Linked DNA regions of Homo sapiens: all the other regions are linked to region 4. Evidence: fine-mapped expression QTL. A gene starts in region 4. Each other region holds a variant in brackets. All regions are shown on one strand. Distances are from middle to middle.

Region 1 (6,325 bases), 50 kb after region 4:
GAAGAAACGCTTAAGGGCATTTGGCACATCAATTGTGTTTTCTTTGTTCTGAGTGGAACTGTTTGTTGTTGTTGTTTTACTTAATGCTTGATTTGGTTGTTTTGTTGTTATTCCATTTATTTTTAGCTCAGGTAAAACAATTAAACTATGAGTTTCCCATTGCACAGACAAATTAGGGATGAACAGGCTCAAGTGAGAGCACATCACCTGCCTCGGCCAAATATATTTTCATAAAATGCAATTGGGAATTCATAGTCTTTCTGAGTGGAAAGGAGCATAAGAAACACAGGGAAATAGGGCCAGGCGTGGTGGCTCATGCCTGTAATCCCAGCATTTTGGGAGGCCAAGGCAGGTGGATCACAAAGTCAGGAGTTTGAGACCAGCATGGCTAACATGGTGAAACCCCGTCTCTACTAAAAATACAAAAATTAGCCTGGCGTGGTGGCACTCGCCTGTAGTCCCAGCTACTCGGGAGGCTGAGGCAGGAGAATCGCTTGAACCCAGGAGGCGGAGGTTACGGTGAGCCAAGATCATCCCACTGCACTCCAGCCTGGGCGACAGAGCGAGACTCCGTCTCAAAAAAAAAAAAAAAAAAAAAAAAGAAACACAGGGAAATAGAAATACATACCACTTCTGTGAGGAGCCTTTGTAAATTTTTTGTGGACTAAGGCTTCCATTTAGAACATCCTTCCATTTAGAATGTCCTCGTTCATAAATTCTACACTTTGGAATAAGAAAAATTCCACCTATTTCTAGCCTGTTCCTTAGTTACCTTTCCCACGTTCCTCTGCTCCATAAGGACACTACTTAAACATAACAACAAAGAGAGTCACACACAAAAATGATTTCTAGGGACTAGACCATGGCTGGGTGGAAGGGAATGATCCAAATCATTGTAGTTCTTGTACTCGGTTCATAATCATCAGCTCCCTGCCCGGGGTCCCAGGGCCCATTTCTGAGAGGATGAGCATCAGTAGCCATGGTGCTGGGAAGTGGGTGGGAAGCTGTTAATGTTTGATCACTGCTAATGCACATTTCGCCCACTGTTCTCTCCCCTGCAGTCTGAGTACCACTATGAGTACACGGCGTGTGACAGCACGGGTTCCAGGTGGAGGGTCGCCGTGCCGCATACCCCGGGCCTGTGCACCAGCCTGCCTGACCCCATCAAGGGCACCGAGTGCTGTAAGCAGCTATCCTGCTCAGGGCCTCCCTGTCACTCAGCTTTGGTCTCTCCCCCAAGTCTCCTGCCATCCAATCTGGGCCCTTCCTGGCAGAGCAGCTGCATTAAGGAATCAGATCTTTTCCCCAATTAGTCCCCACATCCCAGACCCTTATGAGATTTGGTGCAGAAGTATTTCATGAATGCAAACTGGATATCTGAATTTGCTTTCATTTTTTAAAGGAATTTAAATCCCATCAGTGGATACAGCATAAGCAATGCCAGCTGTGTGCACTCAGATATTCTTTTCTGTTTGCATACATTTTCATTTTTGCCTTGTATGTCTCTCCAATCTACACTCACTCACCAGCCACAATCAGTCATTAGGCAAGATTGAGATTTGCTTTCATTCTTAAAAAGGAAGTCAGAGAGGCTAAGTTTCTGCAGAGACGTCCTTTAAAATGCTCCAGGCATCACTTCAGGAGACAAGAATCTTCTTGACTGTGGGTCTGATTGTGCAATAGGAAAGGCAGTGGCTTGCCGCAGCCCCAGCACCCGCCTCTGTGACTCTGCAGTCACAACTTTTCTACAATTGGCAGCTGTTTCCCCTGCATTATTCTTTTAGGAATGCAAAGGGAATAACAAGAAAAACCAGGCACTAGATTTAAGGAATTATCTGAAGAGTTGGAAAGGAGTTTGAAGATATTTAAATTCTAAAATCAGCTTAGTACAGTGCCTGGTTGAGTAAGTGAGCAAATAAATACTTGTTAAATTAATGACTGGATATTGCTGAGACCTGAGCAGAACTGAGGTGTGACTAGTGGAAACAAATGAGCCATCTTCATTGAACTCTGCTGACTTCAGTGAGTCCCACTATGTGTTAGCACCATGATGTGCACATGCAGTGTGAACTGCAAAGACAAATAAGGCACACTCTCTGCTTTCAGAAGCTTAGGGTGGTGGAAAGTGCAGACATTCATTCATTCACTCATTGTTTCAGAAACATTCATGAAGCTCCCAGTCTGTGCCAGTCACTGAGCCAGCCATCCCCAGAGGAGCGCAGAGCCTAGTGGGTGGCAGACATATATGATATGAGAAAGAATGAGAGTTACGAATATTTAGGGATCAGGCATAGCTGGGAGGGCCACTTGAGCAAAAGTTTAGACGTGGATGAAGAGTGACACATTTGAGGAAGAGCTTGTGGTCCAGGGTAGAGGCAACACAGAGAAGGTGATGGATGGAGTTGAGGTGAAAAAAGATTTGTAGTGGGAGGTCAAGCTGGGAAGTTAGGCTGCAGGGAAATCGTGGAAAACTTTGAATGCCAGGCCAAGAGCATAATTCTAGAACCAAAAGGGAGTGCCTGTTTATTTTTAAAATAAGGAGAATAATAGTACATACGTGTTTTACTTTTTATTTTTTTAAAGACAAGGTCTCACTCTGTTTCCTAGGCTGAAGTACAGAGGTGCAATCATAGCTCTGTAGCCTCGACCTCCTGGGCTCAAGTAATTTTCCCACCTCAGCCTTTTGAGTAGCTAGGATTACAGGCACACGCGACCACTCCCAGCTAATTTAAACATTTTTTTTTTTGGTAGTGACAGGGTCTCACTGTGTTGCCCAGGTTGGCCTCAAACTCCTGGGCTCAAGTGATCCTCCTGCCTTGGTCTCTCAAAGTGTTGGGTTTACAGGTATGAGCCACTGTGCCTGATCACATCTGTTTTAGAAAGGTACCTCTGACCACAGAATGAGCAAAAATAAGAATAGGGAACTAGTTAGGAGGAT[A/G]TTGCAATGATTGAGTTAACAGGTCATGAGAATTCCACCTAGCATGGTGGCAGTACAACCAGAAAGGCAGAGGCCAGAGGCTCAAGGGAGAAATTCAAGGCTGAAGGGCCATGTGTCATTCAGAGGGGTCAGCACAAGAGACCTTGGCATCTTCTTCACCAGAGAGCTCTCAGAATGGTCAGGGCACCTCTCCAAAGGAAACGAGTGCCAGGAACAAGCCCAAAGTCCCACAGCAAGGCAGAGCATCCGTGGCCCTAGATCTATTTTTTTTATAACAGCTTTATTGGTATATAATTTATATGCCATGAAATTCATTCCTTTAAGGATAAAATTCAGTGGTTTTTAGAATATTCACAGCAACCATCATCACTCTCATTTCACATTTTAATCATCCTAAAAAGAAACCTCATATTATTAGCAATCTCTCCCCAGGCCCCTCCCCACAGCCCCTGGCAACCACAAATCTACTTTCTGTCTCTATGGCTTCACCTCTTTTGGCCGTTCCATACAAATAGAATGACACATAGCAAGGAATATCACTGCTGAAAAAAAAATTTTTTTAAGAAAAATAAAATCAAATCACACAGTAAATGCCATGGCCCTAAATCTTAGTGGGCCAAACTCCTAGACCCCAACCCAGCGCTCCTCCCTTCAGCTGCTCGCAGCCCATTCACTTCTGGGGCTGCAGTGACCTCACTGCCCCACCTTGTCTCTGCCCTGTTTTCCAGCCTTCTCCTGCAACGCCGGGGAGTTTCTGGATATGAAGGACCAGTCATGTAAGCCATGCGCTGAGGGCCGCTACTCCCTCGGCACAGGCATTCGGTTTGATGAGTGGGATGAGCTGCCCCATGGCTTTGCCAGCCTCTCAGCCAACATGGAGCTGGATGACAGTGCTGCTGAGTCCACCGGGAACTGTACTTCGTGAGTCTGCACACACCCCCACCCCACCCCCAGCCCACTGGGTAAGGGGCTACAGGGCACACTGGACAGCCTCCTCCGCTGCCCCTCAGGCTGGGCAGGGAGGATGGAGGGAAGAGGAAGCCAGGCTGCCAGGGTGAGGCCTGCAGCTGTGCCCGCAAGACCAGTGGATGTGACTCTGCCTGGCCCACTCTTACTGGCCTAAACTTACCAGTGATGGACAGGCATTTGTGGGAGGTAAAAAACATGAGGAAATAAGAGAGTGGACAAGGGGGGCAAGGGTTAAATGGCCCAGTCTATTTAAAACAAAACCCAATTGGAGCTGGGCACAGTGACTCACCCCTGTAATCCCAGCACTTTGAGAGGCTAATGTGGGAGGATTGCCTGAGGCCAAGAGTTTGAGACCAGCCTGGGAAACATAGCGAGACCCCTGTCTCTACAAAAAGTTAAAAAATTTGCCAGGTGTGGTGGTGCATGTCCGTAGTCCCAGCTACTCGAGAGGCTGAGGCAAGAGGATAACTTGAGCCTAGGAGTTCAAGGTTAGACTGAGCTATGACCGCACCACTGTACCCCTGGATAACAGAGCAAGACCCTGTCTCATTGAAAAACAAAAACCGGCAGGGCGCGGTGGCTCACGCCTGTAATCCCAGCACTCTGGGAGGCCGAGGCGGGTGGATCACTTGAGGTCAGGAGTTCAAGACCAACCTGGCCATGGTGAAACCCCGTCTCTACTAAAAATACAAAAAATTAGCCAGGCCTGGTGGTGCATACCTGTGATCTCAGCGACTCGGGAGGCTGAGGCAGGAGAATCGCTTGAACTGGGAAGCGGAAGTTGCAGTGAGCTGAGATCGCACCATTGCACTCCAGCCTGGGCAACAAGAGTGAAACTCCGTCTTAAAAAAAAAAAAAAAAGAAAAACAAAAACAAAAACCAAAAAAACCAACCGGATTTCCACCACGGAATTTCAGATCAGCCAATATACTTTCTCAGCTTGACTGGAACACAATATGCAAAGCTTGGGTATCTTCCCGGCTTGGGTGCTAACTTCTTCTTCTTCTTCTTTTTTTTTTTTTTGAGACAGAGTCTCACTCTGTCGCCCAGGCTGGAGTGCAGTGGTGCCATCTTGGCTCGCCACAAGCCCCAGCTCCCAGGTTCAAGTGTTTCTCCTCCCTCAGCCTCCTGAGTAGCTGGGTTACAGGTGTGTGTGCCACAATGCCCGGCTAATTTTTTTTTTTTCTTTTTTTTGAGATGGAGTCTCGCTCTGTCACCCAGGCTGGAATGCAGTGGTGCCCTCTCCGCTCACTGCAAGCTCTGCCTCCCGGGTTGACGCCATTCTCCTGCCTCAGCCTCCCGAGTAGCTGGGACTGCAGGCACCCGCCACCACGCCCAGCTAATTTTTTGTATTTTTAGTAGAGATGGGGTTTCACCGTGTTAGCCAGGATGGTCTCGATCTCCTGACCTCGTGATCCACCTGCCTCGGCCTCCCAAAGTGCTGGGATTACAGCGTGAGCCACCGCACCCAGCTAATTTTTTTGTATTTTTTTAGTAGAGATGGGGTTTCACCATGTTGGCCAGGCTGGTCTCAAACTCCTGACCTCAGGTGATCCACCTGCCTCAGCCTCCCAAAGTGCTGGGATTACAGGCATGGGCCACCTTGGCTGCTAACTTCTGAAACTGATTCTGCCTAGCCTTTGCCCAGTGCTGGCTGAAATCTTCCAAATGCTGTGAGACCCCAATGACTAGCAAATTTTCTTGGAAAGCTCAGTCCAGGGTGCTTGGAGAACTGGATATCTATTTCAGATATGTCTTTTGTAGGCCAGGCACTATTCTGGATGCTTTACATATATTATTTTCTCTAATTCTCACAAGAACCTTGTGAAATAGGCATTACTATTTCTATTACAGAGACGAGGAACTGGAAGCTCAGCAAGGTTATGACCTGCTCTTTGTTATCCGGTTTACAGCCGGCGAGATTGAAATTCGAACCCAAGCTTCCACTGCTCCATAATGCCACATTCAAATAACATTTATTATGGGCAAGGCAACACTGGGTCCTAGGGAGCGAAAGTGGGGGGATATGAGGATGTGAAAGGCAGCCATATTGTTCCTTATTAAATATGGACAGTGAATACAGGAGGAAAGCAAGTGAAAGTTTCACTTATACCCAAACAATCAAATGGATAAGAAGGACTCAAGAATTGTATTACACTTGGATTTCTAAAAACCGGGAGCAATGTTTCCCATTCCTATACTTAAATCTTGTCTAAGCCAAGCAGTGGCTATTTAATCTGTAGTCCAATTTTAATGTTATGTTATTTTAGAGTTCAACTTGGTGTGTCAGATTCATTAGCATGACAATACTGGAGGCAGAGATAAAGCTAGAGAGCTTTAAAGCTGGAAGGAGCGGGAATGTGTGGGTTAAGACAACCAACTCCCATTTGAGTCCTAACTGAGAATGTCATTAGGCCC
Region 2 (6,325 bases), 84 kb after region 4:
TCACTTCCAAAGGGCTGAAATACTTCCATCACTTTACCCTCAGTCTCTGTGGAAACCAGGTAAGGTATACCAGTTGACAGGGTGAAAATTGAATGGGGGAGGCCCATGGATCAGAAGCCAGAGACAGACACAGGAGAAAACCAGAAATCCTTCAGGTAGCAGGGGGTTGAGGAGCTTCAAAGGTTTTTACATATTATTCTCCCTGAGGACTTTTTCCCCTAAAATTAAATAATCAGGATTATAAACACTTAAGAAAATAAAGATATTTAAAATAATGTGTTCTTGCCGGGTGCCTGGTGCGGTGGCTCACGCCTGTAATCCCAGCACTTTGGGAGGCCGAGACGGGCGGATCACCTGAGGTGGGGAGTTCGAGACCAGCCTGACCAATATGGAGAAACCCCGTCTCTACTAAAAATACAAAAAAATTAGCTGGGCGTGGTGGTGCATGCCTGTAATCCCAGCTACTCGAGAGGCTGAGGCAGGAGAATCGCTTGAACCTGAGAGGTGGAGGTTGCAGTGAGCTGAGATTGCGCCATTGCACTCCAGCCTGGGCAAAAAGGTGAAACTTCATCTCAGAAAAATAATAAAAAATCAATAAAATAAAATAAAATAAGGTGTTCTTTTACCTGACCTTTATTTCCTCAAAATGAGTCTATTTAAAAATATGCAGGAGGAAGGCTAGGCGCGGTGGCTCACGCCTGTAAACCCAGCACTTTGGGAGGCCTAGGTGGGTGGATCATGAGGTCAGGAGATCGAGACCATTCTGGCTAACACGGTGAAACCCTGTCTCTACTAAAAATACAAAAAAATTAGCCGGGCGTGGTGGCGGGCACCTGTAGTCCCAGCTACTCAGGAGGCTGAGGCAGGACAATGGCATAAACCTGGCAGGCGGAGCTTGCAGTGAGCGGAGATCACGCCACTACACTCCAGCCTGGGCGACAGAGTGAGACTCCGTCTCAAAAAAAAAAAAAAACAAAAAAGCAAAAAACAAAACAAACAAAAAAAACCCCAGAAATATGCAGAAGGAAAGGTTTTTTTCCCTTGCTTGAAAAAGCAGTCTTCAGCAATCACTGCATTTGTCGCTTGTTTTCTAGAGGCTGGATAAAATCAACTGTTTCTAGTTCATCCACACGTCTCTTTGCTGACAGTATGAAAGAAAGTAACATGAAATGCTTTATAAGGAAAGATTGTCACCATCAGCCATTTCATGCTGCTGCAAATATTTCAGATCCAAAATTCAAAGGCAGAAATGCAAAGGTTAATCCCACCACTGCACTTGATTAAATTGCAACAAGCCACAATTAGCAGTTGGAAAGTTCATTTCAAATGTTACAAAAGAGGCTGGGCATGGTGGCTCACGCCTGTAATCCCAGCAATTTGGAGGCCAAGGCAGGCAGATCACCTGAGGTCTGGAGTTCGAGACCAGCCTGGTCAACATGGTGAAACCCTGTTTCTACTAAAAATACAAAAATTAGCCCGGCATGGTGGCACACATCTGTAATCCCAGCTACTCGGGAGGCTGAGGCAGGAGAATTACTTGAACCCAGGGGGCGGAGATTGCAGTGAGCCAAGATCATGCCACTGCACTCCAGCCTGGACAACACAGCAAGACTCCATCTAAAAAAAAAAGTGACAATATAAAGAGCATCTTGAGCATCTAGTCTTTGACTCTGTTGGTGGTAAGGCCTTTACATCATAGAGCTCTGACCCATCTTCTGCAGCATGCAAAGAAGTCGATGGGTGTTTATAAAGAGAACATGTCAAGAAATAAACTAATCTATGAAAGATTAGAGATAGGTGTCTCTATCTTGTTTTCAGAAGTCTTCGAAGAAGTTAAAATGAAGCCTCAGAAGTAACAGGTCATGATCACTTAGGAAATAAGACTGATTAAAGCAGGCTTCATGTAGCAAAAGTGTCATTCAGTGAATTATGGAGAGCAATGAAGGTGGGGAATTTGGGGAAATGGTGTATTTTTTTATCTACTCCTTTCCTGTTTAGAAATGCTTATGATGTACTGCCACACGATAGATCCTTAGTTCAAAGACAAAAGAACTCTATTTTATTGTAATGTAAAGGTTTTCTTCAGTTTTCAAGCTCATCTACTTCCTACAATCTAGAAAAAAAAAAAAAGGCTGAGACACCAGATTTAGCACTTTTTTTTTTTTTGAGGTGGAGTCTCACTCTTTTGCCAGGCTAGAGTGCAGTGGCACGATCTCTGCTCACTGCAACCTCCGCCTCCCAGGTTGAAGCGATTCTCCTGCCTCAGCCTCCCGAGTAGCTGGGACTACAGGCATGCGCCAGCACGTCCAGCTAATTTTTGTGTTTTTAGTAAAGACGGGGTTTCACCACGTTGGCCAGGATGGTCTCAATCTCTTGACCTCATGATCCACCTGCCTCGGCCTTCCGAAGTGCTGGGATTACAGGTGTGAGTCACTGCACCCAGCCAGCACCATTTATAATAAAATTTATAACATTGAAAATGTTGACTGGGCACAGTGGCTCACCCCTGTAATCCCAACACTCTGGGAGACTGAGGCAGGAAGATTGCTTGAGCCCAGGAGTTCAAGACCAGCCTGAACAACACAGAGAGGCCCTATCTTTACGAAAAAAAAAAAAAAAAATTAACCTGCGGTTCCAGCTACTTAGGAGGCTGAGGCAGGAGGATCACTTGAGCCCAGGAGTTCAAGGCTTTAGTGAGCTATGATTGCACCATTGCACTCCAGCCCGGGCAATAGATCAAGACTCTGTCTCAAAAAGACAAAACAAAACAAAAAAATCAAATCTGTCTCGTCATTAGACCTGGGATGAATCATTCCCCTACAACATACCATTGAAACGCTGAAAATTTAGATGTAAAAAAGCCTTCCCTATTCCCTTCTGGGAATTCCTCTGTGACCACTCACTTCTTCCTACTTCTTCCTCCCCACTCCCCAACCAGGGTAGGAAAATGTCTGTGTGCACCGACAATGTCACTGACCTCCGGATTCCTGAGGGTGAGTCAGGGTTCTCCAAATCTATCACAGCCTACGTCTGCCAGGCAGTCATCATCCCCCCAGAGGTGACAGGCTACAAGGCCGGGGTTTCCTCACAGCCTGTCAGCCTTGCTGATCGACTTATTGGTGAGTAACTCCGCTGCCTCAGCCTTGTTTGAGAGTGTGTGTGTGTGTGTGTGTGTGTGTATGTGTAAGAGAGTGTGAGGTTACCAGTCTGGGAGGTAAAAGGCCCCACATGAGGGGCCCAACCTCTTGACCTGTGTTTTCTATTCCACTCTGTGTGCAAAGTGCTCCCAGGGACTCTGACAAACCCTTGTTTCAC[C/T]CTTTCATAAGCCACTCAGGGATGTGATGAGATGAAGTGAGGTTGGATGTTGACAGGTATTGGAAGAATTGAAGTGGTTGCCAGCTAATGCTACTAGTGAGAACTAATTAGGAGCTCTAATTTGGCAGGGGTGACAACAGATATGACTCTGGATGGAATCACCTCCCCAGCTGAACTTTTCCACCTGGAGTCCTTGGGAATACCGGACGTGATCTTCTTTTATAGGTGAAGATGAGAGGCTAGGCTAATGCAAGTGAAACCTAGGACTCCTCCATAATTTCTGCTGCATCCCTCCCTCTCTAGCCACCTACTGCTTATCAAGCCAGAACATGTCTGAGGTCTAGCAGATCTGCCCAGTCATGATAGCTAAGGGCTGGGAGTTCCTGATCCCAGCTTCCTGGATATTACTGGAGCAGATCTGCCCTAGAGGCAAGGAGAAATATTGGATGATCTGCAGTGGACTTCCCTTCCAGCCTAAGCAGGCTCCAGTGTATGCTAGCCATGACTTTCCTAAACCAGGGCATTTCCCCCTTGACTACATATTGTTGATCCCCACCCTTTCCACGTATAAACCAAGGCCTGTGCACTCCCTGTGTGCCAGGCTAAAGCCCAAGTCCTGACTTCCCCAGCAAGGGAATTGCTCCATGCGGATTTCTCTTGGTGGCTGTCCAATAACACAGCTGAGTGACTCATTCCCTCATGGGGGCTGGCTTTCTCTGCAGGTCCAATGATGTGACCCAGTCCTGCAGTTCTGGGAGATCAACCACCATCCGCGTCAGGTGCAGTCCACAGAAAACTGTCCCTGGAAGTTTGCTGCTGCCAGGGTAAGCCCTGCAAAGGGATGTAACAAAGGCCAAAATCTCCCTTGAAGTCATTCCATCCTGAGATCCAGAGATTACTGAAAAAGAGCAAAAAAGAAAAGAGTTTGAGATCCATTAATGGGTGCTTAGGGGCACAGTCATGGCCCCAGACCCTCAGTCTTCATATGGCAAGAATGGGGTAGAAGGAAGAGTGAAAGCTATTCTCATATTCCTGGTCCATTAAGGCAGCAGCTGCGTAGCATGGTAACCAACAGCTCGGCTGAGAGCCAGGTTGAATCATCTCCTCCACTAACCAGCTATGTTATCATGGATGCATTTCTTACCTTCTTTAGGCCTCTTTTTTCCATATCTGTAAAAATGGGCATAATGCTAAATTCCCTCAGCGGGTTGTTTTGAGGATTAAATGAGACAAGGAGACTTTAGGACGTTTCATGATCTCTGGCTATTATGAGGATTAGTAAAGGTTTAGGGATCCTAGGAATCTCTCTGCAACGAAAATACCCAGTTCTGAGGTTAATAGCTGAGTGAACTAAATCAAAAATTTCTAAATGAATATGACCACAGGACACCCCCTCCCCTCCCCGCATAACAGCAGCTAACATCTTGACGGGCACTAGCGTCTTGAGGAAGACGTTTTGGATATGCTGCGCCTAAACTGACTGGGGAGATGGGGAGCAAAGCAGGGCGTCTTGACCCAGTAGTGGTGTCTGAGTGTCAAATCCCTGTTCTTGCCATTGTAAACATCACAGTAAAGTACATAACAGGTATCCATACCGGAAGTTCATTCCTGAACCCCACCTCAACTCCAATCCCACCCCGAGGAAGCTGCATCAAAGTGGCTATTGCAAAATGTCACAAGTCTGTGGGGAGGACAGGAACCTCAAAGGGGTTGATGAGACAGCCATGCTGGAGCTCAGACACCTTACAATAGCTCTCATAAGATGTCAGCAAAAACATAAACGGGCAGAGGGTGGGGAGCCCACTGGAGGCCAGGAAGGCCTCTTATCAGTGAAATCAGAGATCAAAACCTGTGTTAAGGACTAGTTGGAAGGATCCTGGTAGGGCTAATGGTTTGGGCAGGGAGAGGGTAAATCAGGCAAGCTATGAGACAACAGGCTTCCAACCAGATCTTCCCCACCCCTCCAGCGAGTGAGAGCTCAGGTCTCTTTTCTGCTTTGCTAGAACGTGCTCGGATGGGACCTGTGATGGCTGCAACTTCCACTTCCTGTGGGAGAGCGCGGCTGCTTGCCCGCTCTGCTCAGTGGCTGACTACCATGCTATCGTCAGCAGCTGTGTGGCTGGGATCCAGGTGGGTTTCCCTCTGATCGGGCACTTCCATGAGAGAAGGGAATGGGAGATCTGAGTTCCTTGTTTTTCTCCCCAACAGAAGACTACTTACGTGTGGCGAGAACCCAAGCTATGCTCTGGTGGCATTTCTCTGCCTGAGCAGAGAGTCACCATCTGCAAAACCATAGATTTCTGGCTGAAAGTGGGCATCTCTGCAGGCACCTGTACTGCCATCCTGCTCACCGTCTTGACCTGCTACTTTTGGAAAAAGAATCAAAAGTACATGTTGCGGTATTGGAGTGTGGGGATGGACAGGGTTGGATTATTGATCAGGGAGAATATCTGAAAGTATAAATTAATGGGGTTTTTCTCTGGAGTTGGCTACAGACTCTGTGACTTATCCAGTGCATGGTTTGGTTATCCTGACTCCTGAACAGGGATGGTACCACGTGGCAGTCTATAAATGGATGTTAAATTCTCAAAAGCAAAGAGTATCCTCAGTTTGCTATTATTAACAGTACAGAGAATGACATTATGATTTTGATATTTCCATTAAATTTTGAGATCATAGAAACAGACAGCCTTAAGGAACAAAGATCACTGAACTGGGAACTAAGATTCCTTCTATTACCCCAGCCCTGACACCATTTTACCATGCTTCAGTCTCCTTACCCATGGCATGGGAATAGGACCTGTTCATAGCCTAACCTCTCTACCTCTTTCCCCCTTATTCCCACATTTTGGGATCTTGTCTTTCCCATCCTCCTGTTTTATAGACTAGAGTACAAGTACTCCAAGCTGGTGATGAATGCTACTCTCAAGGACTGTGACCTGCCAGCAGCTGACAGCTGCGCCATCATGGAAGGCGAGGATGTAGAGGACGACCTCATCTTTACCAGCAA
Region 3 (6,325 bases), 140 kb after region 4:
AGTACAAGGAGAGCCTCAGGGAGAACCTGGAGGTTGGCTATGAGGTGCTCACTGTCAGGGCCACGGATGGTGATGCCCCTCCCAATGCCAATATTCTGTACCGCCTGCTGGAGGGGTCTGGGGGCAGCCCCTCTGAAGTCTTTGAGATCGACCCTCGCTCTGGGGTGATCCGAACCCGTGGCCCTGTGGATCGGGAAGAGGTGGAATCCTACCAGCTGACGGTAGAGGCAAGTGACCAGGGTCGGGACCCGGGTCCTCGGAGTACCACAGCCGCTGTTTTCCTTTCTGTGGAGGATGACAATGATAATGCCCCCCAGTTTAGTGAGAAGCGCTATGTGGTCCAGGTGAGGGAGGATGTGACTCCAGGGGCCCCAGTACTCCGAGTCACAGCCTCGGATCGAGACAAGGGGAGCAATGCCGTGGTGCACTATAGCATCATGAGTGGCAATGCTCGGGGACAGTTTTATCTGGATGCCCAGACTGGAGCTCTGGATGTGGTGAGCCCTCTTGACTATGAGACGACCAAGGAGTACACCCTACGGGTGCGAGCACAGGATGGTGGCCGTCCCCCACTCTCTAATGTCTCTGGCTTGGTGACAGTACAGGTCCTGGATATCAACGACAATGCCCCCATCTTCGTCAGCACCCCTTTCCAGGCTACTGTCCTGGAGAGTGTCCCCTTAGGCTACCTGGTTCTCCATGTCCAGGCTATCGACGCTGATGCTGGTGACAATGCCCGCCTGGAATACCGCCTTGCTGGGGTGGGACATGACTTCCCCTTCACCATCAACAATGGCACAGGCTGGATCTCTGTGGCTGCTGAACTGGACCGGGAGGAAGTTGATTTCTACAGCTTTGGGGTAGAAGCTCGAGACCATGGCACTCCAGCACTCACTGCCTCGGCCAGTGTCAGCGTGACTGTCCTGGATGTCAACGACAACAATCCAACCTTTACCCAACCAGAGTACACAGTGCGGCTCAATGAGGATGCAGCTGTGGGCACCAGCGTGGTGACGGTGTCAGCTGTGGACCGTGATGCTCATAGTGTCATCACCTACCAGATCACCAGTGGCAATACTCGAAACCGCTTCTCCATCACCAGCCAAAGTGGTGGTGGGCTGGTATCCCTTGCCCTGCCACTGGACTACAAACTTGAGCGGCAGTATGTGTTGGCTGTTACCGCCTCCGATGGCACTCGGCAGGACACGGCACAGATTGTGGTGAATGTCACCGACGCCAACACCCATCGTCCTGTCTTTCAGAGCTCCCACTATACAGTGAATGTTAATGAGGACCGGCCGGCAGGCACCACGGTGGTGCTGATCAGCGCCACGGATGAGGACACAGGTGAGAATGCCCGCATCACCTACTTCATGGAGGACAGCATCCCCCAGTTCCGCATCGATGCAGACACGGGGGCTGTCACCACCCAGGCTGAGCTGGACTATGAAGACCAAGTGTCTTACACCCTGGCCATTACTGCTCGGGACAATGGCATTCCCCAGAAGTCCGACACCACCTACCTGGAGATCCTGGTGAACGACGTGAATGACAATGCCCCTCAGTTCCTGCGAGACTCCTACCAGGGCAGTGTCTATGAGGATGTGCCACCCTTCACTAGCGTCCTGCAGATCTCAGCCACTGATCGTGATTCTGGACTTAATGGCAGGGTCTTCTACACCTTCCAAGGAGGCGACGATGGAGACGGTGACTTTATTGTTGAGTCCACGTCAGGCATCGTGCGAACGCTACGGAGGCTGGATCGAGAGAACGTGGCCCAGTATGTCTTGCGGGCATATGCAGTGGACAAGGGGATGCCCCCAGCCCGCACACCTATGGAAGTGACAGTCACTGTGTTGGATGTGAATGACAATCCCCCTGTCTTTGAGCAGGATGAGTTTGATGTGTTTGTGGAAGAGAACAGCCCCATTGGGCTAGCCGTGGCCCGGGTCACAGCCACTGACCCCGATGAAGGCACCAATGCCCAGATTATGTACCAGATTGTGGAGGGCAACATCCCTGAGGTCTTTCAGCTGGACATCTTCTCCGGGGAGCTGACAGCCCTGGTAGACTTAGACTACGAGGACCGGCCTGAGTACGTCCTGGTCATCCAGGCCACGTCAGCTCCTCTGGTGAGCCGGGCTACAGTCCACGTCCGCCTCCTTGACCGCAATGACAACCCACCAGTGCTGGGCAACTTTGAGATCCTTTTCAACAACTATGTCACCAATCGCTCAAGCAGCTTCCCTGGGGGTGCCATTGGCCGAGTACCTGCCCATGACCCTGATATCTCAGATAGTCTGACTTACAGCTTTGAGCGGGGAAATGAACTCAGCCTGGTCCTGCTCAATGCCTCCACGGGTGAGCTGAAGCTAAGCCGCGCACTGGACAACAACCGGCCTCTGGAGGCCATCATGAGCGTGCTGGTGTCAGGTAAGGAAGGGCCCAGGTGGCGCTGGGGTGGGGGTAGCTCGCGGGGATGGTCTGGGCAGCCACTGGAGGTAGGGTGCGATCCAGGAAGCAGCTACAGATCCACCTCCCTGCCCAGTGCCTGGCACAGAGCAGGAGGGGCAAGAGCCAGCTTGGGAAGAAGCCCCAGGAACCCTGGCGGCTGGTGCAGGCCCCACCTTCTGCTGGGCTGGGCTGGGCTGCTTCGGTTGGCTGCCCCCACTGTCTACCAGCCTGTGACGTGGTCGGGGAAGTGTTGTGAGGCTGCCCCGGCTATGGCTGCCAAGAATTGTGAAAAAAGGCGCGTGGAAGCCTGGGGGGCCAGGAGAGCTGGGGGAAGGGCAGAGAGGACTGTGGCGCAGGAGAGGAGGCGAGGCCAGGGCCCCTTCACCCCCATCAAGATATTCCTGCAGTCTCACACAGCCTTTGGCAGAGCTGGGGACCACGGGAGCACAGGGCTGCCGCCACCCAGGGGTCAGGACCCTGTAGTCCTCTTCTGGCCCCTTTTGCCTCCTGGCTGAGCTGCAGAATCGGCTGACAGGGACTTTGTCTAGCGCATTCTTTTCCCTCCAGGCAGAAAGAGCCTGGCCTGGCTCCCCCTTCAGAGCTCCCACAGGAAGTGAGGCCAGAGCTCATTGTCTGTCCAAACAGACCCCACTTTCAGAGTCCGTGGTTCGGGTCTGGCTTGGAGGAGGGGCTGCAATGAAGCTGGGGGGCAGGCTGAGGCCTCGTGGGCCCCCCTTGCCACCTCATGGGCTGTTCTTAGGGTGCCAGGCCTTCCTTTCCTGCTAGCTGTGACCAGCCCAAGCTCCAGGAATGGAGTGTAGGGACCAGGACA[G/A]GCCAGTGGACTGGTGAGCTTTGAGGGCAGAGACCCCAAGGCACCTTATCTGAGGAGAGAACAGAGTCCCAGGGCGTGGGAGCCTGGCCGGAACCCAGGCTGGGGCATTCCTGCTGCTTGGCCAAGCACTCAGCCTACAGACTCCCTGGACAGCAGGGCTGGGGGAGGAGAGTTGGAGGGGGTTGGTGACAGTATTCTGTCTTTTTTTATCAGCTGTGGGGAGCCAGAGGTAGCAGCAGGGAGAAGACCACACCCAAGTTGCTGAGTGCCTTCCCCAAGCCTGGGAACAACTGAGACCCTCATGAGGGGATGCTGTTAGCTGCACCCCAGGGGTGGATCAGGTCACATCCCCTCTAGGCAGCCTTCAAATCCATCAGGGAAGGGAGGAAAAGAAGAGGCTGGCAGGCCCCTACTCCCACCCCAGGGAGTGTGGCCTGAAGGGGAAGGAGGGGTATGCCAGAGTCAGGGCGTGGCCTCACTCAGGGTCCTTGCTGGACAGATGCCTCCCTGCCCCACCCTTCAAAGTAGCCACAGGAACCAGGAAGCAGGAGCTTTTCAGGGACTGTGGCTGAGGTTCTGAGCCTCCTGAGACTTCAGTTTCCCCTCCAGGAGGCGGAAGAGGGAGGCTGGAGCTCCTGTGTCCTCAACTGTGCCTGGGCACTTGAGACAAGTGGGAAGGAGGTGGGAAGGAGGGCCTCTCCCTCTGGTCCTCCACACCCAGCCTGCCTTTGGTGAGCGTGGCCAGGCACTGGCAGAGAAGCGCCCCCATTAAGCCTTCGGTCTCCCACCAGGGCAGAGCCCTAGACCTTGGTTCCCTAGTCTAGAGAAGGCTCGGGGCAACATCCAGGACGGCTCCTCCTGGCCCGGCAGCTCTGGCCCCACCCTCTCCCTTCGGCCCTGACCCTTGGAGGCAGTCACCACGGCAACCCCAAAGTTCAGGGAGGCCGGGGTGAGGGGGAGCTGACTCCCACTGCCCCTTTGTTTTCCTCCTCTTGTTCTTTGTCTCTTCTTTCTTTCCCGCCCCTGCCCATGCGGAGCCCTGCAGCACTGCCTCTCTCCGGTGCCCTCTCCCTGCTCCTGCGGCTCTCCGGCTCTCCCACTTGCCCATTGCTGGCTCCTCTCCTGAGGCTTTGTCTTCCCCTGTTTGGTCTCCGTGTTTGTGCCTCCACTCTCTTCCCTATGGCTGCAGCTGCCCCAGCCTGGGCCGATGGCTCCCCTGGAGGCTGAATTCTCCTCGCCTCTTTCTTCCTCTGCTCAGACACGCAGCAGCTCCTGTCCATGGTCTGGGCAGCTCCCAGAACAGCAGAGCCCTCTTGGCCTCCAGTCTCCGCTGGCACATCTGCCAGGGGAAGAGAGGCTGGGAGGCTGACCGGGACCTGGCACTTTTCCAGGTGTGCCTGGCTAAGCTTGGGACACAGGTGGCATTTCCTGGGGTCAGAGGCCATCCCAGCTGTTCCTTTTCTGTCCAGGAAGACAGCTCAGGCAACGTACTCCCCACCCCTGTTCCCATCCTGCCTTTGCACCTGAGGGGTGACCTAGGTCAAGGCAGGGGAGGGTGATATAGAAAGGAGAGAGCAGTGGGTTGACTGTTGGGGATGGGGGACAACAGCAGAGGGGGCAGGTGGCCACAGATGGTGGACCAGATGGGAAGCAACAGAGACATGCTGGGAGAGGGGCCCAGGCGGGGCCTAAGACGATGGCGGTGGGGGACACAGGGAGAAGTGTTTGTTCCCAGGGCTGAGGGGTGGCAAAGTTTCTCCCGCTCCATGGCCTTGGTTGCCCCCTCTCCTCTCTTAATCAGTTATGGGCACTGTGTGTGGAGTCTTGGGCTGCTTTCTGCCTGGAGGGAATATCCCGTCAAGGAATCATTAGGCAGATATACCAGGTATACAAGAGCTCTGTGCCAGCTGAGCATCCTGGTGCGGGGAAGTCTGAAACGGAGAGGAAAGTAGAGCCTGATGACATAAATCTGGGCAGGCTTCCTGGAGCAGGTGAGCTAGGGCAGGTTAGAAGACTCAGAGGACTGTGGGCTGGTGTCTGGGTGGGAAGGAACAGCCTGTGCAGCAGCTTTGAGACGAGAGCAGGAGGAACAGAAGTGGGTGATGACAAGCAGGCTTGCTGGTGAGAGCTAGTGAGAATAAGCAAGTGATGAGGCTGGAGGGTAGGTGGGCAGTCGGCTGAGGACATGGCTGAGATGGGGGTCTGCTTTCAGCCTTCCCGGCTTCAGCTGAGCCACCGCTGGTACAGTCAGCCACCGCAAGTAGGTACAACACAGATGCAGAATTTGTTCCCATGTCCCTTGCCTACTCCCACCCCACCCCAGAAACATGGGCTCCTGCCCCGTTACTGCTAGGGTAAGCATTTGCTTTTTATATCTAGTTGGGCTCCCCCTGCTATGTGGTTTTGTTTGTTTGTTTGGGACAGAGTCTCACTCTGTCACCCAGGCTGGAGTACAATGGCGCGATCTCGGCTCACTGCAACCTCTGCCTCCTGGGTTCAAGCAATTCTCCTGCCTCAGCCTCCTGAGTATCTGGGACCTCCTGAGTAGCTGAGATTACAGGCACCCACCACCACGCCCAACTAATTTTTGTATTTTTAGTAGAGACGGGGTTTCACCATGTTGGTCAGTCTGATCTCGAACTCCTGACCTCGTGATCCACCCGCCTCAGCCTCCCAAAGTTCTGGGACTACAGGCGTGAGCCACTGCGCCCGGCCCCCTGCTATGTTTTAAAGTCCGTTTATTCTTTGTGGAGACTGAATAGATTGTCATCCACATCTCAGTGTTTTCTGAACACCTACTATGTGTAAGGCATTGTAATAAATACAAATATGAATATGCCAGTAGCTCATGCCTGTAATCCCAGTGCTCTAGAAGGCTGAGATGGAGGATCACTTGAGGCCAGGAATTTGAGACCAGCCTGGACAACACAGCAAGACCCCATCTCTACACACAAACAAAAATTAGCCAGGCATAGTTGTGAGCACCTGTGGTCTCAGCTATTTGGGAGGTTGAGGTGGGAGGATCGCTTGAGCCCAGGA
Region 4 (6,325 bases):
CTCTCTGTCCCTTAGGCAGTGCTATTCTCCAAGGGTCTCATTTTTACTTTTCTTATGCTCACATCCACTGGATGAGCTGATTCCCTTCCATGGCTTCAACTACCATATGGGTACCATAGCTCATACGGATACACAGCTCAGTCATACATCTTCAATCCAGAACTCTCAATCCTGTTGCCTACTATTGACCTTCACTTAAATATACCACAGTCACTACAAAAACATCTACATAGTTGATGTTTCTCAACATCTTTCTCCCCAAACCTGCTTCCCCAGGATGCCCCATTTCAGTGAAACCTCAGAATTAAACCGTTAGGAACCCAGCAGCTATCCTAGACTCACCTCCTCTCTTGGGCCCATGTCCAGTCAGTCTCCAAGTCCTGTCAGTCCTGCCCTGTGCACCTTTCTCACATCTGCACCTGATCACCACCCCCTGTGGCACTGCTGTAGATCTGTTACTCTTCCTCCTGGAGATCACCTCACCTGCCTCCTAGCTGATCCCTCTTGTCTCACTCTCATCCTATCCAGTCTGCTGCCACTTGTGCTTCCTAAAACACCCATCTGATTGTGTCACTGTGGTACTTAAAATCCTGCTATGGGGCTGGGACCCATGGCTCATGCCTGTAATCTCAGCACTTTGGGAGGCCAAAGCAGGAGGATCACTTGAGGCTAGGAGTTTGAGACCAGCCTGGGCAACAAAGGAAGATCCTGGTTCTACAAAAAAATAAAATAAGAATTAGCCGGGTGTGGTGGCATCACCTGTAGTCCCAGCTACTTGGGAGGCTGAGGTGGGAGAATTGCTTGAGCCCAGGAGTTCGAGGCTGCAGTAAGCCAAGATTGCACCAGTGCACTCCAGCTGGGGTGACAGAGCAAGGAGACCCTGTCTCAAAAAAAAAAAAATATCCCACAATGATTCCTCACATCCCTAGGATGAAACCATAGCTAGCTAGCATGGTGTACACAGCACACCCAGCCAACCAAGGGCATCTCTCCAGCTCTGATTTCTGAGTGCTTCCATTGCACGCCTACACTCCAGCCCTTCTAGACTATTTGCAGTTCCCCAAATAAGCCATTCTCTCTCTCCTTTCCATGTATTTGCACCTGCTGCTTCCTTTGCCTTGCATATCTGGTTCCTGTTTCCTTCTTCCTAACTCACATTCTATCCACTCCCTCACCTGGCCTACCTAACTCATATTTGGACATCAAAATGCATCTGCTCTGTGAAGCTTTCCTTTAAGTTCCTGGTTCTCACGGCACCCTGCACACAACTCTGTCACAACATGTGCTATTGTGCAAGCATTTTTGCTATTGTCGGTCTCTCTTTACTACTAGAGTTCCTTGACAGCAGAAGCTACATCTAATTTATTTATATATCCTTGGCGTTTAGCAGAGTGTCTGGCTTATAGTAAATAAGTATTGAATAAATAAAAAGGGGCTCTCAATATTGTTATTAGACCACAATCACCACTTAATTCATCTTATTGTGCACCACTTCATATATCCCAATCACTTCTACCAGAAAAAAGATCATCTAAGTTCCGAAATCAGTGTCCACCATCATGCTAAACACACACATAACAAACATATTGTGGTGTTAACCAGAAGACAGAGACAGTGTGAACACAGATGTGTAAAGCATGACCTCTGGTGGCTTTCAGAGGATTCTCTCCCACTCCATATCTCATTTCTCTTCAGAGAACAGTCTTCCAAATAGGGAAATGGGTAGCTTGAAGGAACCTGGGCACTGCCATAACTTATACTCACAATTGATTTGAGCTGCCAGAGCCCCTTGTTCCTCTAGACTAGAACTCTACTTTCCTCTGCTCAAAAACGCCTCTGAAACGTTAGCCGACTTGAATATGGAGATAGGGAGGCAGGCAGAAAACAGACTTCCCTGGTACCCGACTGAGTGTCTTCACCAGAGTCCTTTATGTTACCATCTCTGCTCATCACACAGACAGAAAGAAGACTACCGGCGACCCTACTGGGAATCTGCGCAAGAAACCACAGTACCTTGGAAGCCCGCAGTTCTCCTAAGTAGGAATCATCGTTATCTAATGTAGGCTGCTGGAAAGGGTCCCGGGTGGGAGGCATGGCTAAATGCCTAACTCTTTTAAGAGGGATGGGAGGCCCGCTCAGCCGCAGCACAGCCTCACTGGCATAAGATCCCGGGTCCCAATTGTTTGGAGCGCTGGTTTCGGTTGCCAGGCAACTGCCCAGCCATCTATGACAGAGGAATTCCCTCAGAGGAGGGCGCCACCTGGCGGCTGACCACGGGAGGCCCCTGGGGAGGAAGCTCCGGGGACTGCAGAGGGAACGTTCCGCTGAGCGGGCCCGAGACTTGGAATTGCACTCCTGAGCCTCGGCGGAAAAGTGCTGGCTGCTCACCATCAGGACTTCTGCAAAAGACTTCAGTTGAGGAAAGAAGTCCTGAAAGATGACCCAGAAATTTCCTTCTCCCTCGCACCTAACAAAAGGCTTTCAAAGCCATGAGAGAATGAGGATGTCAAGAGACCAAAGAGGGCCGGGCGCGGTGGTTCACGCCTGTAATCTCAGCACTTTGGGAAGCGGAGGCGGGCGGATCGCTTAAGCCCAAGAGTTCGAGACCAGTCTGGGCAACATGGCGAAACCCCGTCTCTACAAAAAGTAGGAAAAAAATTAGCTGGGCTTGGTGGCACGCGCCCGTAGTCCCAGCTACTCGGGAGGCTAATCCAGGAGAATCTCTTGAACCCGGAAGGCGGAGGTTGCAGTTAGCCGAGATCGCGCCACTGCACTCCAGTGTGGGCGAGAGAGTGAGACCCTGTCTCAGAGAGAGAGAGAGAGAGAGAGAAAGAGAGAGAGAGAGAGAGAGAGAGAGAGAGAGAGAGAGAGAGAGAGAGAGAGGCCCACGTGCGGCGCTTGGGAAATTGCGGCTAAGGCAAACTCCTCGCTTAAACTCGGATCAACTACAGTGTCAGGGCTTCTCTTCTAGCCGGTTGTAAAAGCACGGATGGATTTGGCGGGATGTAAGATCTCCAGGAGTGGCCTTCGTAGGAGGGAACACGTACTGGGGCCTCTTCCAGGCGACGACGTCTGGAGGGTGATCTCTCCATCTTCTTTCTCTCGGTTCACACGCCACGTGTGCAACATCGGAGATGCTCATAAAATAACCCCTGGCCCGAAAGGGCAGTAGAAAACGGAAATTTGTTGGCTGGCTTGGAGGATGCTTCCACTGTGTTCTTCACACGAGCCCCGGGCCTGCCTGTTGGGCCGGTTGCGCACCCCGGGCGCGCGCTCTCCCGCGCCCACGCCGCGCGCACCAGCGGCGGCGGCTGCCATGGCGACCCGCAGGTGAGCTGCAGAGGCGCGCGTGGTCCCTGCCCCACCCGCGCGGAGCCAGAGAGGAGGCGGTTGTCAAGGCGACGTGGGTAGGAGGAGAGGACAGAGGGAGGAGGAAGGATGGGCGGTGTTGGCGTAGCCGCAGGGAGGTGACTGAAGCGAGCCTGGCCTCTTGCATCCTCCGCCTGTGTACCTCCCTCCCCTTTTTTTCCGCCTTCTGCCAGCAGAAGCAGCAGCCGCAGCACCTGAGCCGCTACTGCCGCTCACTCAGGACAACGCTATGGCTGAGCCTGGGCACAGCCACCATCTCTCCGCCAGAGTCAGGGGAAGAACTGAGAGGCGCATACCCCGGCTGTGGCGGCTGCTGCTCTGGGCTGGGACCGCCTTCCAGGTGACCCAGGGAACGGGACCGGAGCTTCATGCCTGCAAAGAGGTACTGCCGCCCCCCTACCCGATCCCGCTTTGGTCACAAAAGTCTTGGATCCAGGCGGAGACCTTGGGGACCCAGGCGCAGAGAGTTTCAGACGCCACGGAGTTTAGATTTCTTTGGGGATGAGGCGTGGGGGGAGGGAAGAGGAGCCAGTCTGGCGTCATGAGGAGGCCAGCACATTGGAGGACTCACGGATAGATCATCCTCACAGATTGGGATGCTGAGCTCAGCGAGAAAGGTCCCAGCCCCAAGAAGGGGAGCTACCTGGGTACCTGAACTCAGAATGAGGGAGGCAGACGAGTTATTTTCCAGTTAGGATGAACTCACCTTAAAAGTGGTTGACAAGAAAAGATTATGCACAGAGAAGCAAAATAGGAAGAGGAAAGAAGAGTAGTGGGAGAGGAAAGGAGTTAGGAAGGCCAGAAAAAAGTATCAGAGCGAAGTGGTTTTATCATGGCTACACAAAACGGAGTGTGAAGGTGGGAGATGTGCGAGAGGGATGATAGGATTCCAGCTCTCTAGTTCCTTGTTTATTAAACATCGGTTAGTGCAGACTGTAAAATGTGTCTCCTCCTTATAGCTTGGCCTCCCCGCAGCGTACTATGTTTAGTGTACCTGACAGTACACGACTCACCTTTTTGCAGATTTTGAGTTCTTCAATATCTTGTGTTCTGCCAACCTCTAGTCTCCTTCTCTGACTTAACATATGTCAAAGTCTTTTTCAAGGTATTTCCAATATGTTGGAAGCAGAATTCAGACAATAGGTAGTCAATCTCTTATAACCAAAAATAGCTTTTGAAAAGTCATCTTGGAGGAACATAAAAGGGCACTAGCAGCAACAAAACTAAGTCATTTCTATGTTATTGAAATAACAATATTTGGTTGTGCTCTGAGCAACTTTTTTAGAAACCATATGGCAGAGGCAACAATAAGATATTTACAAGAACTACGTTGGGGAAGGCAAAATAAAAGTTCTGTTATTTCTGTGAAATGTGAAGGACTTCATAAAAAGTCAAGCATCTAGCTCTGTAAATTTAATCCCAAATATCAAGCTTGACTAAGGTTTTGAGAGGTTAGAATATATATATAGATGTATTTTCTTTACTTTAAAAAATATATGTTTTAAAATAGAAATGAGGTTTCGATATACTGCCCCGGCCAGTCTCTAACTCCTGGGCTCAAGCGACTTCCCACCTCGGCCTCCCAAAGTGCTGGGATTATAAGAATGAGCCACTGCGCCCAGCCCAGAATATTTTTTATAAATTGTTAGTGTGAACTGATTGGCAACAACTCCATCCCATATGGAGATAAATTCTTATAAAGATGTTCTGTGTCTACAGCACAGCAGGTCATAAAGAAGTCAGGTGTGGGGGGGAGGATTTTTGTGTGAATAAAGATACTTGATTTTGAAGATTCATGAATATGACATAAGTGACCCCAGTGAGTGGGACTTTTGATAACCTTTATTAGCTCCAATGACAACCTGCCCTGGGCCATCTACATTTCCACCTAGCCGCATTATGACCTGTTTTAGAGATCGCAGGGAACAGTATGATCTTATCAGTGACTGGCTCACTGGCCTTGATGGCCTGTGGTCTAACCAACCAAAATAATGAGACCAAGAAAGCCCACTTGCCTAAGAATCAAACAAGGGAGTTTCCTGAGTGGAAGGTAAGAATCATACAGTTTAACTACCAATTCTTGTTGAGATCTTTGTCAACAATGGAAAATATGAGACATTTCAGAAATTAAGCACTTCTATTATCTTGGTTTGGAGGAAGGGAAGAATATTGATACTTGAGAACTCGAACTTGTGTACGAATTTTGCCTTTGGTCCTGTTTGAATAACCAATATTTGCCTAAGCAAAAGGTCTTGCCACAAAGTGTAAGCTTAAGGTAGTGGAAAGCTATGGAGCTCAACCTACCAGGGTTTCAGTCCTGTTACTTACCACGTGGTTTTTGGATTTGTAGAATGGGTATCAAAATAACACCTACCTCAGAAAGGATTGCTTTGAGTATTGAAATAGAAAATACATTGGAAACACAAAAGAGAGTTACCCACCCTCCTTCTCTGTTCAGCTTCTTTCCCATTAGATCCACACCCCATGCCAGATTGGAAATGGCTTAGGAGGCATGCCCATTTGCCACAGGCGTCAGCAAGTCCTGTTTACATTCTCCTTGAGCAAACAGTGGCCATTGAACACCCTCAACTCCAAAACAATCAGGGAGAGAATAAACCCATTATTATAGTATTCATTTGGCAATATGAACTGATCAAACAAGTTTGGGGGCTTCCAACCCCAAATGGTGAAAAACCAATTCAAGGTAGACCAGCTCTTCTCTGTTCTTTTTTTTTTTTTTTTTTTTTGGTGAGACAGAGTCTGGCTTTGTTGCCAGGCCAGGCTGGAGTGCAGTGGCATGATCTCGGCTCACTGCAGCTTCCACCTCCCAGGCTCAAGCAATTCTCCTGCCTCAGCCTCCCAAGTAGCTGGGATTACAGGCATGTGCAACCACACCCGGCTAATTTTTGTATTTTTAGTAGAGATGGGGTTTCATCATGTTGGCCAGGGTGGTCTT
Region 5 (6,325 bases), 71 kb after region 4:
CCCTCAGGAGAAATGTTTTACTTTGATAAAACAGATCCCAGTGAGAACATTGTACTCCTGGAGGTGGGGGGATATTGAAAGGAGGAGGCAGGTGCAGAAAGAGGAGTTGGAGCCCCTGAGATAAACTTTATCTTCTTACAGTTTTGCCCAGGGCCAATCCTACTTAAGTCACTTTTCACTCCCTCAACCAAACACAGAGGCCCATCTTCCAAACTTGACTAGCATCCAACTTAAACACTTTGATGAAACCCAAGCTGGGAAAGGAGGTTGGTCTCAGCATTTTGGTTAATCATTTATTAAAACCACCTTAACAGGGATCAGTGTGTAAACAGCTGAGCCATTTTTGCTAAAACCCAGAGCTAGGATGTCAGATTGAGCAAATATTTGACAAGCAGAGAAAGGTCTTGGTGTAGAATGCATTTTCTAACACATAACTTGTACTTTGCTAGACCTAAGAATTGGCACCTTCCCACGTTTTCAGCCTCTCTCCCCACATTTTTCCTGGCCAAGTCAGTCAAAAGCAGGAGTCCATGGGTCCCTCTGTGCTGAATTGGGCCTCCTGCTTGGTAACCAAGTAAATGAGCTGAGAAGACCCCAACTGTTTCTCAGCCAGTAGTTCCCACCTGTCCAGCCTAATAAGACAGAGACAGAAGAGGTATGGAGATGTGCAGTTGAGAGAACTTTCCAGCTCAGGCCAACAAGACTGCAATTAGGAGATTATCTGATCTACGAACCCATGTGGTGCCTGGAGAAAAAGAAGGAATCAGTTGAGAAATAAGCCCTTAACTGAAAGGGAGGTAAAGAGACCTTTAATCCTTATTCACTCTCCTGTGACTACTCCCAAATAAAAATAATTCCCGGCTGGGCATGGTGGCTCACACCCATAATCCTAGCACTTTGGGACGCTAAGGCAGGCAGATCACGAGGTCAGGAGTTTGAAACCAGGCTGACCAACATGGTGAAATCCCATCTCTACTAAAAATACAAAAATTAGCTGGATGTGGTGGTGCACACCTGTAATCCCAGCTACTCAGGAGGCTGAGGCAGGAGAATCACTTGAACCCGAGAGGCGGAGGTTGCAGTGAGCTGAGGTGGCACCACTGCACTCCAACCTGGGCAACAGAGCGAGACTCTGTCTCAAAAAATAATAATAATAATAATAATAATAATAATTCCCAAACATGCAGGTAATAATAGTTACTGCTATCTAGTGAGTATCTACTTACAATGTGCCAGGTAGGTACTGGCTCCAGCAAGGTATATATTATTATTCCTGTTCTACAGATGAGAAGGCTGAGGCTCAGAGAGGTTAAGTAACTTGCCTAAAGTGACACAGCTGCTAAATGATGAAGCAGGATCCAAACCCATATCCGTCTAGCTTAAAATCTCATTCCAGGCCGGGAGCGGTGGCTCACACCTGTAATCCCAGCACTTTGGGAGGCCAAGGCAGGCGGATCACGAGGTCAGCAGATCGAGACCATCCTGGCTAACACGGTGAAACCCTGTCTCTACTAAAAATACAAAAAATTAGCCAGGCATGGTGGCGGGCGCCTGTAGTCCCAGCTACTTGGAAGGCTGAGGCAGGAGAATGGCGTGAACCCGGGAGGCGGAGCTTGCAGTGAGCCGAGATCGTGCCACTGCACTCCAGCCTGGGCAACAGAGCAAGACTCCATCTCAAAAAAAAAAAAAAAAAAAATCTCATTCCACTACACCATACTGCTTGCCAGGTAATATAAAGAGAGAGAAGTTCTTACCATTATTCAGTGCTTATCTGCAGGTGACACAGCAGTCATATTCGAAGTAGTGGTGGCAGTAGTAACAGTATTGTAATGTGCACCTCATAAAGCAGTTGTTTTTATTCTGGAGGAAGTAAATTCCCTAGAAAACTTTCAAAAAGTTTTTATTTGTATGAATTACGCATATTTTTCTAGGTAGAGAGAAACATCTCTTTTTTTCAAATTTTCAAAAGAGTTTTTAAAATCAAAAAAAGTTAAACCCACTGCTTTAAAGAGAGAGTCAAGCACAATGGCTCATGCCTGTAATCCCAGCACTTTGGGTGGGTGGCTGAGGTGGGAGGATTGCCTGAAGCCAGGAGCTCAAGACCAGCTTGGGCAACATAGCGAGACTCTGTCTCTACCAAAAAAAAAAAAAAAAAAAACAAAAAAAAGAGAGAGAGAGAGAAAAGAAAACAAACCCTATGATGAAATAATGAAAAAAATAAAATTAAAAAATGAATTCATAGAAGTAGTTCTCACTATCCAGAGGTTCACAGGGTTAAAGCAGAGCTAACATTGAAAGGAGGAGAACATGCAGAGAGCAGAAGAAAACTGATAGTTCACGTTTTTCTTCTTTCTTTCTTTTCCTTCCTTCCTTCCTTCCTTCCTTCCTTCCTTCCTTCCTTCCTTCCTTCCTTCCTTCCATCCTTCCCTCCTTCCTTCCTTCCTTCCTAACAGAGTCTCTCTCCATTGCCCAGGCTAGAATGCAATGGCATGATCATGGCTCTCTGCAGCCTCAACCTCCTGGACTCAAGTGATTCTCCTGCCTCAACATCAAGTAGCTGGGACTATAGGCCTGCACCACCACGCCCGGCTAATTTTTGTATTTTTTGTAGAGACAGGGTTTGCTATGTTGCCCAGGCTGGTCTTGAACTCCTGGGCTCAAGAGATCCTAAAGTGCTGGGATTACAGGCATGAACCACCATGCCCAGCAGTTAACATTTTTCATTAGGTATAAATCAAGAGTTAAAGATAGTGTTGGGCTGGTGCGGGAGGCGGGAGGATCGCTTGAGCCCAGGAGTTCCAGGCTGCAGTGAGTTAAGATTGTACCACTGCAGTCCAGCCTCAGCAACAGAACAAGACTCTGTCTCTAAAAAATAACAATAATAAAATAATAATAAAGAGGCCGGGCACGGTGGCTCACCCCTGTAATTCCAGCGCTTTGGGAGGCCGAGGAGGGCAGATCACCTGAAGTCAGGAGTTCGAGACCAGCCTGACCAACATGGAGAAACTCCGTCTCTACTAAAAATACAAAATTAGCCAGGCATGGTGACTCATGCCTGTAATTCCAGCTACTCAAGAAGCTGAGGCAGGAGAATCACTTGAACCTGGGAGGCGGAGGTTGCAGTGAGCCAAGATCGTGCCACTGCACTCCAGCCTGGGCAACAAGAGTGAAACTCCATCTCAATAATAATAATAATAAAGATAGTGTTGGGATGCTTGGGTTGAGGCAAGTGGGAAGAACCTTATGTGTTAGGTGGAGTCCAAGGAAATTACAAACCTGGTTTGTGTAGAATGATTGCATGAAGAAAAGGAAATTTCCAAGGTGGAAGGCCTTCATTCTAGGCATATATTAGAACATTCATAGAAAGGCTTGGAATGAGTATGAAAGCAAAATCATGTTTTACTTCAACACTTCAGGAGTAGAAAAACCACACCCAGAGTCAAGACACTAAGGCACCTGGAAGATGGTGAACTCTCTGAACCTCCCCAGGTTTCAGGGAACTTAGGTTGGCAGTGGTTAACCTGCAAGAAGCTGTTTCCGTCTACCCTCCTTGCTGGTCCTTTGGCCAGGCCACTTCTCCCTCCCTTGCCCCATGGGGCGGGGGACGGGAAGCGGCAAACAGTGGTTTCTCATCAGCACCTGGAACAGGTGCAAAGGGAAGCTTGAGCAGGGTTGGGGAACTGGAAATGACACTATTGAGACAAGGGGAAGGGTGAGTGTGCAGGATTTTCTACTTCCGGCAATATTTGTGTGGCAATGCACCCAGGGACTTGGGAGTCACAGGGCCATGAAGAGGCCAGGAGCTCAGCTTTCTTATGTAACTCCAAATATTTCTTCTTG[CT/C]TTGGCAATTTAGAGAAAGGATCTTCTTCCTGTAACGTGCGCCCAGCTTGCACAGACAAAGATTATTTCTACACACACACGGCCTGCGATGCCAACGGAGAGGTGGGTAGTACAGTCTTGGAGCCCCTTAGCCCCAGATGGACTGTCTCCCACTCCCTGAGGTTTGCCACCATTTGGAACTTCAGCAGTCAATGACATTGGCACTAGTTAAAACCCCACAGACCTTTGAGGTGACCCTAGGGCTAGGTGGGGTGGGGGGCAAAACGAGACCTCTTCATTCATTTTCCGGTCAGAAACTGTTTTTGCAGCGTTTGTTTCACTGTTTATGCACATATGTTCTGTTTCAAAAACCCACTTCATTCTCTCTTGCTTGGTTTCTTCTATTTGCCGAGCCACTCCGGCAGAGCCTGCCTGTCCGTACACAATGTCCTCCCGGGGCTCTTCAGGCTCACCCCCTCGGCACTGTTTTGTGGGCTGGCACGGGGAATGGATTCCTGCCTATGGTCTGACTTGTTCCGTTTCTGCTGCTTCTCTTTCCTCCAGGCTTTCTGCTTCAGAAAAGAACTTTCCCTCCTAGTCTACACTGTCACTGAGTCAACAAGCATTTTTTGAGGCTGACTGATATGTCAGGCCTGGCACTATAGGCTGGGGAGTCAGAGACGACTGAAACAAGCTCCTGCCCCCAGGGAGCTCACAGTCCTGTATGAGAGGCTGGAGAGAGGAGAAAAACGGGCCCAGTCAAGGCAACCAGAGGGATGTGCAGGGAACTGGGGGAGCCCAGAAGAGAAGCGACCAGGACTTGGGGTGGGGGCAGCAGAGAAAGCCTCTCAGAGGAGGCCATTTGTTCAACAGTCAACAAATATTTATCGAGGAGCGACTCTGTGCCAGGCACGGTGCTAGGTGCTAGGCATGCATCACTTAACAAAACTGAGGGAACATCTAGCCCTTATGGAGCTTAACTCTTGTTGGGGAGGGAGTGGAGAGAGAGATAATAGACAACAAATGGGTATATAATATAGCAAATGGTAGTAAGTGGTAGGAAGGAAAAAAAAAAACCAGGATTAGGAGAGAGAGAATGAAGGAGGGTGGTGCCACTATTTTAGAAGGGTAGGGATGTCCTCTCAGGAGGTGACATTTGAGCAGAGACCTGAAGGAGATGAGGGAGGAGCCGTGGAGCTTTCCAGGCAGCAGACACAGCAGGAGAGGAGGCGGCAGCTGGGCCAGGTGGGTGGAGAAACAGTGTAAGTGAGCAGGGAAGGGCTTGAGGTGCACGGAGAAGGATCTGGCTGAGCTGTCTGTATCCCTAAGCTAGAGATTCTCAAGAGGATAGAACTAGGAGTTGGGCATTCTGCACTCAGCACTAAGCATGATGCTTGGCTCTTAGGGAGCATAAACATTTGCTGGCTGGGCGGCTGACTGAATTCTCCCTTTCCTAACTAAGCATGGGTTAAAGTCTGGTCCTTAACAATGAATATTTTGCACAGTCATCTCTTACCAACACCACCTCCCCCACGTATTTGGGGCATCATCCCCTTCTCCAGCAGCCAAGAGAGAATGGCTGTGTCTTGTCAGTTGCACCTTAGACTCAGTTCTGTGGTGTCTGGTATTCTGTATGACCTTGTGAACATTTATTTTCATTTTCTTGGTCTCAGCCAACTCACTAATAAAAGGCAGACAATTAATCCTGCTGCTCTTCTCCCTCCTGTTCATAACATGTGACTGAATGTGGCTGTCTTTCCTCCCTTCTGCCCCATTCTCTTCCCTCCCTGGGCTCACGCCAAGGCCTTCTGGGTCAGTACCGTGCTTGCTGCCTGAAAGCCCGGGTGTCTGCCTTGGCCTGACCACTGCCGGGGCCTTTAGATGCTGGGTCAGACCAAAGCCTGTGTTCCCGCCTTGCAGCACAGCCAAGGCCCAGCTCAGAGGAGGAGCACTGAAGCGTGTGCTTTCAGGAGTGCGCATGAACATGCATTCCCCAGCTGTTCCTTGCAGACTTCTGCTTTGTGCCTCATTCCCGCACTGGTTCTGCTCAGTCTGGTGATTGAGTTTGTCTTCTGAACAGTATTTTAAAATCAAGGGACACACCTCGAGCTGGCTCCTATGATTACATTTCTGACCTTGGCTGTGCCTCAGTTGTTTCTCAGGGACCAGGATGGCCCATCCATTGGGGTCAGTGAATGTGCTGCTCCAAGAGCTGGCCCGAGACAGTTTGCCAGCTCCTAGGACTCTCCTCTCCCTGAGACTCACAGGAGGCAGGTGAGGTTCAAGCCTGGGGCTCTGGCTGTCGCAGCCCTCCGCAGGGAAGAGGGCCGAGCTGAGCAGGGGAAGGAGGAGCCCAGGGCTCCCCATCAGTTAAGGCAGTCTGTGTCCCTCCTTAAGGACTTGTTTCTTATCTTGAAAAATATGGACAGAGGCCTTATTCATCCTTCTTTTCATATGTATGGTATCTGCACAGATCATGTTCATCAACCCCTCAGTTCAACCTAT

Direction of the effects. Positions count from the first base shown, and alleles are read on the strand shown. Sizes are in standard deviations (SD) of each study's normalised expression. Not every link is listed here.
For the expression in whole blood of the gene that starts at base 3,530 in region 4, allele G in region 1 goes with a higher level than allele A (large effect, 0.76 SD a copy in GTEx).

Evidence for each region. PIP is the estimated chance that this variant, and not a neighbour inherited with it, causes the effect.
Region 1: its variant is fine-mapped to the expression of ELAPOR1 in whole blood (TOPMed, PIP above 0.99).
Region 2: its variant is fine-mapped to the expression of ELAPOR1 in whole blood (GTEx, PIP 0.96).
Region 3: its variant is fine-mapped to the expression of ELAPOR1 in visceral fat (GTEx, PIP 0.95).
Region 5: its variant is fine-mapped to the expression of ELAPOR1 in whole blood (TOPMed, PIP above 0.99).

The regions. Positions count from the first base shown.
Region 1 is chr1:109,160,833-109,167,157 of GRCh38, forward strand. ELAPOR1 (endosome-lysosome associated apoptosis and autophagy regulator 1) reads left to right here. Exons shown (of 22, transcript NM_020775.5): 2 at 1,062-1,182; 3 at 3,667-3,859. Among named protein-coding and RNA genes, the nearest start is that of ELAPOR1, 50 kb to the left of the region's middle. The variant A/G (reference allele first, on the strand shown) is at 2,939.
Region 2 is chr1:109,194,536-109,200,860 of GRCh38, forward strand. It overlaps ELAPOR1 (endosome-lysosome associated apoptosis and autophagy regulator 1), which reads left to right. Exons shown (of 22, transcript NM_020775.5): 15 at 1-59; 16 at 2,939-3,119; 17 at 3,444-3,540; 18 at 4,038-4,139; 19 at 5,319-5,445; 20 at 5,524-5,702; 21 at 6,200-6,325. Among named protein-coding and RNA genes, the nearest start is that of SARS1, 16 kb to the right of the region's middle. RefSeq lists an enhancer at 2,802-4,001. The variant C/T (reference allele first, on the strand shown) is at 3,316.
Region 3 is chr1:109,250,957-109,257,281 of GRCh38, forward strand. CELSR2 (cadherin EGF LAG seven-pass G-type receptor 2) reads left to right here. Exons shown (of 34, transcript NM_001408.3): 1 at 1-2,433. Among named protein-coding and RNA genes, the nearest start is that of CELSR2, 4.6 kb to the left of the region's middle. RefSeq lists a silencer at 40-230 and enhancers at 2,083-2,857, 2,118-5,272. The variant G/A (reference allele first, on the strand shown) is at 3,287.
Region 4 is chr1:109,110,586-109,116,910 of GRCh38, forward strand. ELAPOR1 (endosome-lysosome associated apoptosis and autophagy regulator 1) reads left to right here and starts at 3,530. Exons shown (of 22, transcript NM_020775.5): 1 at 3,530-3,751. The coding sequence starts at 3,599. CFAP276 (cilia and flagella associated protein 276) reads right to left here and starts at 2,162. Exons shown (of 5, transcript NM_001245025.3): 1 at 2,014-2,162. The coding sequence starts at 2,094. RefSeq lists a silencer at 3,282-3,351.
Region 5 is chr1:109,181,191-109,187,515 of GRCh38, forward strand. ELAPOR1 (endosome-lysosome associated apoptosis and autophagy regulator 1) reads left to right here. Exons shown (of 22, transcript NM_020775.5): 8 at 3,855-3,943. Among named protein-coding and RNA genes, the nearest start is that of SARS1, 30 kb to the right of the region's middle. The variant CT/C (reference allele first, on the strand shown) is at 3,841.